2 separate regions of the Homo sapiens genome follow, and region 1 is linked to region 2. Evidence: fine-mapped expression QTL. Tissue or cell type: whole blood. Region 2 holds a variant in brackets; the other region holds the start of a gene. All regions are shown on one strand. Distances are from middle to middle.

Evidence for each region. PIP is the estimated chance that this variant, and not a neighbour inherited with it, causes the effect.
Region 1: ENTREP3 starts here. The variant in region 2 is fine-mapped to the expression of ENTREP3 in whole blood (INTERVAL, PIP above 0.99).

Annotation. Positions count from the first base shown.
Region 1 is chr1:155,253,281-155,258,280 of GRCh38, reverse strand. It overlaps ENTREP3 (endosomal transmembrane epsin interactor 3), which reads left to right and starts at 2,798. Exons shown (of 12, transcript NM_006589.3): 1 at 2,798-3,628; 2 at 3,825-3,881; 3 at 4,087-4,197; 4 at 4,303-4,422; 5 at 4,549-4,656. The coding sequence starts at 3,404. SCAMP3 (secretory carrier membrane protein 3) reads left to right here. Exons shown (of 9, transcript NM_005698.4): 6 at 624-783; 7 at 895-996; 8 at 1,490-1,607; 9 at 1,862-2,300. The coding sequence ends at 2,008.
Region 2 is chr1:155,090,199-155,095,453 of GRCh38, reverse strand. No RefSeq gene overlaps it. Among named protein-coding and RNA genes, the nearest start is that of EFNA3, 14 kb to the right of the region's middle. RefSeq lists an enhancer at 1,322-1,936. The variant A/G (reference allele first, on the strand shown) is at 3,077.

The DNA.
Region 1 (5,000 bases), 160 kb before region 2:
TTGGGAGGCCCAGGTGGGCAGAACATGAGGTTAGGAGATCAAGACCATCCTGGCTAACACGGTGAAACCCCGTCTCTACTACAAATACAAAAAATTAGCCGGGCGTGGTGGCGGGTGCCTGTAGTCCCAGCTACTTAGGAGGCTGAGGTAGGAGAATGGGCGTGAACCCAGGAGGCAGAGCTTGCAGTGAGCCGAGATCCTGCCACTGCACTCCAGCCTGGGCGACAGAGCGAGATTCCATCTCAAAAAAAAAAAAAGAAAAAAAAAAATTAGCTGGGCGTGGTGGCGGGCGCCTGTAGTCCCAGCTACTCTGGAGGCTGAGGCAGGAGAATGGCGTGAACCGGGGAGGCGGAGCTTGCAGTAAGCTGAGATTGCGCCACTGCACTCCAGCCTGCGCGACAGAGCCAGACTCCGTCTCAAAAAAAAAAATGTCTTTGCAAGGGGATCACACATTATTGACATTTGCTTTCTCCATCTCCCCTGTTGAGGATTCCATGAAGGCAGCAGCTGCCTTCATTTCCTTACTCTGCCATGTTTGGTGAATATTATAGGATGAGCATAGATGGGAAGGAGCCTTCATTGCAGTCCAGAAGGGCTCCTCATCCTGTCCCTCTGCCCCTTAGGCAGCACGCTGGCTCTTCTCCTGAACTTCCTCGCCTGCCTGGCCAGCTTCTGTGTGGAAACCAACAATGGCGCAGGCTTTGGGCTTTCTATCCTCTGGGTCCTCCTTTTCACTCCCTGCTCCTTTGTCTGCTGGTACCGCCCCATGTATAAGGCTTTCCGGTAAGTGTGTTAGTGGTGGGAGAGTGATGGAGACCTGGGATGGGCCCCACGTCTGCCCATCCTTCAGCTCTAATTCTTCTCCCACCCTCCCCATTTTTTTCCTCTTTGTAGGAGTGACAGTTCATTCAATTTCTTCGTTTTCTTCTTCATTTTCTTCGTCCAGGATGTGCTCTTTGTCCTCCAGGCCATTGGTATCCCAGGTTGGGGATTCAGGTTTGTGAGGCTGTTATCCACCCTCACCTTTCCCTCTAGATCCAGCCAGCACTGGGTGCTGGGATAGGAGTTGTTCAGAAAAAGGAAATGTGGTTTTAATCCTTGGGAGGTACTAGTTTAATGAGATACAAGACATACTTCCAGGATAGAGCGCAGACAGCACTCTTGACACATATAGATTGAAGGGAAGAATGCTGCATTTGGCCAATCTAAGGTGGCTTCCTGGAGGAGGCATAGAACCATGGTTGAAAGGAGGAAGAAGAATCCCCAGATGAGTGCCTGGAAGAGCTTGGAGAGCTCAGGGCTAATGGTTCAGAAACTGGAATTAAACTATGAAGAGATTAGATACAGTTTGGGATTGTGGTGCTTGGAATGCTGCTCGATTGACAGGGAGCCACTGCTGATGGGAAGGGTAGGAACAGGGGATGCTGGTGACATAACCAGTGGAGAAGCTGAGGAGCCCCTCTTCACTGGTACATCCTTCCCTTTACAGTGGCTGGATCTCTGCTCTGGTGGTGCCGAAGGGCAACACAGCAGTATCCGTGCTCATGCTGCTGGTCGCCCTGCTCTTCACTGGCATTGCTGTGCTAGGAATTGTCATGCTGAAACGGGTGAGGGCTGTGTCGAAGGTGGGGCCGGGATGGTGAGATCATGGGTCCCCAGGGGCGTGGGTGGAACATTCAGGAGCAACTGGCACAGGTCAGGCTGCTGGGTTGTTCTCAGCTAATGGACCTCTGGGGTGTGTGTTTCTGTGTGTGAGTGTGTGTGCTGGGCAGCAGGCTGCTGAGTGGTAGTGATGCTGTTAGGCTGGGGTGGGGAACCAGTGGCTGGAATGGGCGGTAATGTCTTTGTCCTCTACTTGCAGATCCACTCCTTATACCGCCGCACAGGTGCCAGCTTTCAGAAGGCCCAGCAAGAATTTGCTGCTGGTGTCTTCTCCAACCCTGCGGTGCGAACCGCAGCTGCCAATGCAGCCGCTGGGGCTGCTGAAAATGCCTTCCGGGCCCCGTGACCCCTGACTGGGATGCCCTGGCCCTGCTACTTGAGGGAGCTGACTTAGCTCCCGTCCCTAAGGTCTCTGGGACTTGGAGAGACATCACTAACTGATGGCTCCTCCGTAGTGCTCCCAATCCTATGGCCATGACTGCTGAACCTGACAGGCGTGTGGGGAGTTCACTGTGACCTAGTCCCCCCATCAGGCCACACTGCTGCCACCTCTCACACGCCCCAACCCAGCTTCCCTCTGCTGTGCCACGGCTGTTGCTTCGGTTATTTAAATAAAAAGAAAGTGGAACTGGAACTGACATCCCCGTTTCCTGAATCTTCATTGGGAATTAGGCCTTATGAAAGAGAAAGGAGAGTGTGGAGTGAGGTGGGAAGGTCGGACCCGGCTTTAGTGTAAACTGGGAGATATGAGGGGCGGGGCGGTGGAGCCCGAGTGGCTGGCGCAGGAAGGAGGTGGGAAGTCCACGGAAACGCGAAACCCGGAGACGCCAGGGAGCCCTGCTCCCCACCCCTCTCCATTAATGACGGGGAAGAGCCACCGCCTCTGCCGGGAACGCCAAGGAATACGCGGGCCTGGAGCCTGAAAAGCTGGATGGGGCTCAAGTGGAGGCCCAAAGGATCACTAGCAGCCTAGCCAGGGTCCAGAGCGAGGCAGGGACTGGAGGAGCGCTTATCCGACTGCCTCGCCCTGCCGCGGGATCCCCCAACCCCGACAGGGTCTCAGTCCCGAACTACAACTCCCGGGGTGCACCGCGCCGGCCCTCGCCGCCATGCCCCTCCTTCCCGCACCATCCCCATTCCCATCCCCCTTCTCTAGTCCCCGACCTGCGGCAGCCGGAGCTCGGGGAGCGGAGCGTGGTGGGGAGGGGAGCGGGACAGGCGACACAGGAGACAGCGGCGCCGCGGCCTCTCCCCACCAGGCGGCCCCGGATCCTACTGGACGCCCTGAGGGCACACCGACCGCGCCTCTAGAGTCACCCCACGCCGACCCCTCCCCTCTTCTCTAGACTTATTTCCATCCTTCCCGCTTTTACCCTCCCCACCCCTCCCTGGGCTCCAGGCCGCCGCCCCCTCCTCACTCCTGGACCGGCCCTTCTCGGTGCCCCTCTTCCCTAGGGAGATGCGATGAGCCGGTGCCCCCGCGTCCTCATCGTCGCCCCGGGCACGGTGCCCGTCCAGTGCCCGTGGTGGGGAGGGAGCACTCCGCGGTCCCTCCGTGACGCCCCTCGCTTGGCCCCCCCCACAGCTGGCGTCCCTCGGCCATGCCCCAGGGGACCCAGCCAGGGGGTGGGCTCTAGAGCGAGTGGGGTGGAGAGGAGAAAGGACGGGGCCTTGGGCGCCTCTGAGATGCTCCCAAGTGCCAGGGAGGGCCGAGCGAGGCGCAGGCAACCGGGCAGCAGGCATGATGCCCTCGCCTAGTGACTCCAGCCGCTCGCTGACCAGCCGGCCCAGCACCAGGGGCCTTACCCACCTCCGCCTCCACCGACCCTGGCTGCAGGCCCTGCTTACGCTGGGGCTGGTCCAAGTGCTCCTGGGCATCCTGGTGGTCACCTTCAGCATGGTGGCCTCTTCCGTCACCACCACCGAGAGCATCAAGAGGTCCTGCCCGTCTTGGGCTGGGTTCTCGGTGAGTTGGGTGCACAGTTGTTGGGTGGGGGAGGCTCCTCGGGCCCCACCCTCCACACCAGCTGCAAGTCCACATGCTTGCCTCTCCTCCCTCTCCTGGTCCTCTGCCTCCTTACAGGGCTGGGTGCATCCTGTGGTGAGGGGCTCACTCAGGAGCCTCCCCTGCCAGGCTGAGCCTGTGCCCACTCTGTCCCCAGCTGGCGTTCTCCGGGGTGGTTGGCATTGTGTCCTGGAAGCGGCCATTCACTCTAGTGGTAGGTGCCAGGGTCCAGTGCCCACTGGGAGGCAGGTGCCCAGCACGCAAGGGGAAGCCCATTTATGTCCTCAAGAAGGGAACTGGCTCCCCAGTTGGTGCCAGCCGGGTGGGCACGAAGTGTCTGTGAAGGAGGGGGACTCTGTCCGTGGCAGAGGAGTACTCATGAGGGTCCCAGCCCTGAGTCTGCACCCTGTTTTCCCCAGATCTCCTTCTTCTCCTTGCTTTCGGTGCTCTGTGTCATGCTTAGCATGGCTGGCTCTGTTCTCTCCTGTAAGAATGCTCAACTGGCCCGAGACTTCCAACAGTGCTCTCTGGTGAGATTTGAGGAGGGAGAGCTGGAAAGAACTGGCTGGGGGAGGTGTGCAGGACACCTCAGTTTGTCCTGACTCAGGCTGCCTCACCCTCCCTGCTCCACTCAGGAAGGAAAGGTCTGTGTGTGCTGTCCCTCTGTTCCCCTCCTCCGGCCCTGTCCAGAGTCGGGGCAGGAACTGAAAGTTGCCCCTAACTCCACCTGTGATGAAGCCCGAGGGGCCCTCAAGGTGAGCTTGCACCCTGCAAACATCCTCCTGGTTCTCACTCTTGCCTCCCCTGCTGGGGTACTCACAGGCCCATAATGTGTGGAACTTAGCCGTCTCCTGACTCCTCTCCTCCTTTCCCTTCCCCAGAACCTGCTCTTCAGCGTCTGTGGGCTCACCATTTGTGCCGCTATAATCTGTACACTCTCTGCTATTGTCTGCTGCATCCAAATCTTCTCCCTGGACCTCGTGCATACGGTGAGAAGGGAGCAGGGGCCAGGGCACGCAGGTATGGTGGGGGCAGGGGTGTGTGTGCTGAGACTTGCCTGAGGGAACAATGGCTACAGATCTGGCTTTTGAGCACCAGGGGCTATGGGTTATCTATTATCCTCATCTATTGGAGGAATGGATGTTTAGTGGGGAGGATGAGAAGGGGAGATGGCAGGGAGTGAGTTAAGTATGTGATGCTGGTCTGGGACCAGGAGAGGGTGCTTTAGAGAATGGGACTGGATGGTGGGGTAGAGTCAAGAAGGTCCTATGCTGGGCACGGTGGCTCATTCCTGTAATCCCAGCACTTTGAGAGGCCCAGGCAGGCGGATCAC
Region 2 (5,255 bases):
AAGCTCAATAAACCCTAAGCAGAAGAAATATGAAGACAACTACACCAAGGGTACATCATAATCTGCCTTAATCACTGCTGAACACCAGTGATAAAGACACAAATCTTAAGAGCTGCCAGAGGAAAAAAACACATTGTGTAAAAAGGAAAAATAGAAGTGATTTCTCGTCAGAAACAATGCAACCCTGAAGACAGTGGAGTAATGTCTTTAAAGTACGAAAAGATAAAAACTGTCAACCTAGAATTCAGTGGAGATATCTTTCAAATAGGAAGATGGAATAAAGATGCATTCAGACATTCCAAAATTGAAAGAATTCATCATCAGTAGACCTGCACTAGAAGAACGGCTTTAAAAAGTCCTTCAAGCAGAAGAAAAATGATACCAGATGGAAATCTCCGTCTACACAAAGGAATGAAGAGAGCTGGAAATGGTAAATATGTGGGTAGATAGAAAAGATATTTTTCTGATTTTAAAATTCTCTTTAAAAGATACTTGAGGGTTTAGAGCAAATCTAATAATGTATTGTGGGGCTTATAGCATGTGTAGAAATAAATCCATGGTGACAATAGCACAAAGGCGGAGAGGTGGGGAATGGGAGGAAGGTGTTTGCGCTGAGTGGTGTGATATTACTTGATGGAGATAGACTATAAGTTAAAGAAGCATTGTGTAATCCTAAAAGAACCACAAAAAAATGTAAGTGTAGTATTATGAACCAATAAAGGAGATAAAATGAAGATCACAAGGGGTGTGCTGGCCACCCCCTTGGCACACAGAACAGTTGGGTGGAGTTCCCCAGCCCAGCAGGGTCCCATAGAGCCTCTGTAGGTGTTTGGGATAGAATGAGTACCGTCAGAAAGAAACTTCCTCTCCTGCCACCTTCTGGCAGTAAATCCAGCCTATTTTTAACTCAGGCCTCTGCTTAAGTGCTTTTGGCTAAAAGAGAATTGCTGCTTCTAAGAATCTCAGGCAGCCACAGTCTCCTCGGCTTCTCTGCTCGCTCCAGCCCTAGAAGGCTCAGGGACTGCTCAGATGTCCCCGGCTTCCCAACCACTTGTCCCAGGAGAGGAGGCTCCCTCAACTCTGGGTGCTCACTGTGGGCACCCACAGACAGGCAGCCCTTCAGCAGGGTGCAGGTGTGAGAGGATCTCTAAGGGATGTCATCTCATGGAGACTGCGGGGATGGTGCCACGGAGTGGTGTGAGGGCAGCCTGGAGCGAACAAACTGCAGAGTGTTGCTCCAGGAGGGTGCACATGTGTACAAAGGCGCCCTGTGTGAAAAGGGCGTGCTCTGTTGTGAGTGTGAATGTTTTTGTGACTGCTTATGCTGTGAAACATAAACACAGCAGCCTCCGTCCTTTTGATCATGCTGCCCCCTCTGCTGGCCTGTCTCCCCTCGTAGTCCCTCCCAGCCAACACCCACACCCTAGCTGGCAAACTGCCAATCATCCCTCAAGCCTCTCATCTCTCCCAAAGTCTTCCCTGACAACTCTGGCCAGAGGCCCAGCCAAATGGCCGCCAGACTCGGGGTTGTATACCCAGGGGTTAGCATGATGCCTGCTGTGTGCTTAGCCTGCAAGGAGGGAGGAAGGCTCTTAAGGCCTCTTTTGGGGGCCGTATTAGGAGGGCACTGAGAATATTTGCTTTTTCCACTGTCAGACCAGGTCCTGCCAGGCCCTGAAGGGCACCCAAGTGACAAGCCTGGGGTCACAGAGGGATGCGAGGGTCACCCTCCATGCCCAGTGTGCTTAATGGTGCAGAGAGGCCAGGCCTGGGGTCTGTGCCCAGAGTGGGCAGTGCTGGTGTCCAGGTGGTCAGATATGGGCATGGCCCCACGTGGAGTTGGACAGCCTCTGTTGATTTCTCCTCAGGGCTCTCCCTGGAGGCTCAAGGTCTGGCATCTGTGTATGTGTGTGTGTGTGTGTGTGTGTGTGTGTGTGTGTGTGTGTGTGTGCAGGCATGTCTGTGGTGTGGGAAGAGGGCTTTCTCCTGTCTCAAGCTTAGCTCTTACTCTTCCCAGCCCCCTCTGCTCCCCACCATTGTCTTCTCCTTCACCAGCACAAGGCAGGAGTGGGTAGGAGGTTCCCAAGGTCCCTGGGAAGAATGTGGTGGGCACTGCGTGTGATGTTGGGTGTGGGCACGTATCTGTGGGTGCACATATGGATGTGATTGAGAAGCCCCTGCCTCTCCTTGTGTTTGTGTATGTGTCTGGGTATATCCTTGGGGTCCTAGAGGTTGTTTTTGTGTCTCCTGTGGCTGTTGAAATGACCTATCGGTTTCCAGAGGGTGTGAATGTGGCTCTGATCTACCCCCTCCCACCTCCTCCCTCTTCTGATTTTCTTGACTCTAGGGTTTGCCCAGTTGGCTTGGCTGGGATTGTCATTGGGTCCGTGTTAGAGAATTGTATCATCTGTTGAATGCCAGCCCTCAAGTGTGTCACCGTATGTGACCCTGGATGCAAGCGCGGCTCAGGGTACCTGGGAGCCCCTTGCCCTGTGTGGGGTCTGGTGCCTGCGTGAGTGTGTTATAGACAGTGGGGCGTTAGTATGTGCCTAATACCCATGAATGGCTTGAGTGTGACGGCCGCAAAACGGGTCGAATGTGCACACATGGATGTGTGTGCAAGTGATGGATGAGTGTGTGTGCGTGTTCCCTCCTGTGGGTGCCTGGACTGGTCCCTCAGTCCCGTGGGGGGCCTCTCCCACTTCAGTGGTGTGAACAAAGCCCCTGCTTTCCTCCCTGCTTTGCCCCCCAGCCCCCTCTCCCTCAGCACCGAGTTTGATTGACTGTGTGTGGTTGCAAGGTTATGAGATTATATGATTGGTGTATGGCATATGAAGTGTATGCCATTGAATGTGAAACTCTAGTATCCCCTGGCCAATGCCAGCCTCTCAGAGGCAGGCTGGTGGACCTCCGGTCAGTTGAACCTAGCTCTCCCAGGTTCCTAGGCTGGCCCATCCATCCTTTTATAGCCAGGCTTGGCCCCTGTAATTACCTGGGGCCAGATGCTGTGGCGAAGGCCAAGAGTTTGGTGCTAACACTCTGGGGAGGAGTCATATCTGCCCCTCCCCCAGGCCAC[A/G]CCGGAGGAGACTGGAGGAGGCCAGACCTCTTTGGAGTCAGATCACAGGCCACATCACTAGGTTCAGCCTGAAGCTGCTCTGCTGCTCTGGGCCCAGTGTGTCTCTGGCTGACCTGGCCCCAGCACATCTGGGCTATCCCATCCGCGTCACACTTCCCCAGACTGTCGTCCACAGGCTGCAGACACCGAGCCTGTGTTCCCATCACCTCCCACCTGGACCCCTCTTGCCAGTCCATGCCCCCAACCCAGCTCATGCCCCTCGTTCCCCCCCTCCATATCCTCCCGCCCCCCTCATCCTAGTCCTTGTCTCCTGGTCCCAGCTTGTGTCCTTCATTCCAATCCATGGCCCCCCAGCCCCGTCACCACCACCTCCAGTCCACGCCTCTGTCCCTGCCACGTACCTCCAGCCCAGTCTGTATCCCTGGTTTGCCAGCTGGACGGAACATGGAGGTTGAGAGAGAATGGCGAGATTTGCGTGCCGAGTAGGTCTGGGCTGGACGGCTGTGGACTGAGCCCAAGTCCACTCCCAACCCCATGGCATCTACAACTAGGGGAGGAAAAGAAGAGAGTGGGGATAAGAGAAATGGACGGAGAGTGGGCTGGGCCTTAGCCCACCCTGCCCCAGGCCTGAGAACAGAGGGTCCTACGGCGCAGCTGCTTGAGTCCCCTCAAGGACCAACACCCGCTCCACCGACCGCAAACCCATCCCAAGCTCCCCTCACAGCTCCGGCGAGTCCCAGCCCAGGTGCTGCGCCACCTGGTGGATATCGGCAGACTTGCAGGCCCCGAGTGGCAAACCCACGTGGCAGCGAGGCTTAGACCCCAGCCGGGATTGTAAATAGCTCCTTCCCTGCTACCCACAGCGCTGCTGGAGTGACCTCTCACCCCGAAGGGAGGGGCGGGGCAGCTCTGAACTTTACTCTCCAAGCCAAAATCTCTGTTCAGTTGTTTGATGTTGCTGTTGTTTTTCACCCTGGGGAGGACGGGAAGAGGAGGGATGTGTGCGATCTCTACCTGTGTTGGGGGCATTAACCTGTGACAGCCTCTGGGAATGCCAGCGTGTCAGGTGGGAGCCCTCTTTGTGCCTGTGCTGGAGGGGGCCAACATGAGACAACACAAGGGTGAAGAAGACCCTGCCCAGGGTGAGGCTGCTCTGCCCTCAGGCCATACCACTGTGCCTGGTGACATCTTACCACTGCCTTGGCCAGGACGCCCTGGGCTCTGCAGACCTTGGTGTCACAAAGTAGGGCCCTGTACCAGACAGGCTCAGGGTCATTGGTGTCTGGCCATCTAAGTGCAGACCTCTCTCCCCAGTCTTCCTTACATGCTCTGGGATTGAAAGCCTCGCTGGACGGGAAAATCCTCAGCAGGGCTCCGCAGCTTTTAAAACTGATTTCATTTATTTATTATTTATTTAGATATTTATTTTTGAGAGACAGAGTCTCGTTCTGTCGCCCAGGATGGAGTGCAGTGGCTCGATCTCGACCCACTGGAACCTCCGCCTACCAGGTTCAAGCGATTCTCCTGCCTCAGCCTCCTGAGTAGTTGGGATTACAGACATGCACCACATGCCTGGCTAATTTTTGTATTTTTAGTAGATACTGGGTTTCGCCATGTTGTCCAGGATGGTCTCAAACTCCTGACCTCAAATGATCTGCCTGCCTTGGCCTCTCAAGTGCTGGGATTACAAGTGTGAGCCACAGTGCCTGCCAATTTACTTATTTATTTATTTTAAAGACAGGGTCAGCCGGGCGCGGTGGCTCATGCCTGTAATCCCAGCACTTTGGGAGGCTGAGGTGGGCGGATCACCTGAGGTTGGGAGTTCGAGACCAGCTTGACCAACATGGAGAAACCCTGTCTCTACTAAAAATACAAAATTAGCCAGGTGTGGTGGCACATGCCTGTAATCCCAGCTACTCGGGAGGCTGAGGCAGGAGAATCACTTGAACTCAGGAGGTGGAGGTTGCGGTGAGATGAGATCACACCATTGCACTCCAGTCTGGGCAACAAGAGCAAAACTCCACCTCAAAAAAAAGAGTCAGGGTCTTGCTCTTGCTCTGTCGCCCAGGCTGGAGTACAGTGGTGTGATCATAGCACATTGCAGCCTTGCTCTCCTGGGCTCAAGCAATTCTCCCGTCTCAGCCTCCTGAGTAGCTAAAACTACAGGTGCATGCCACCA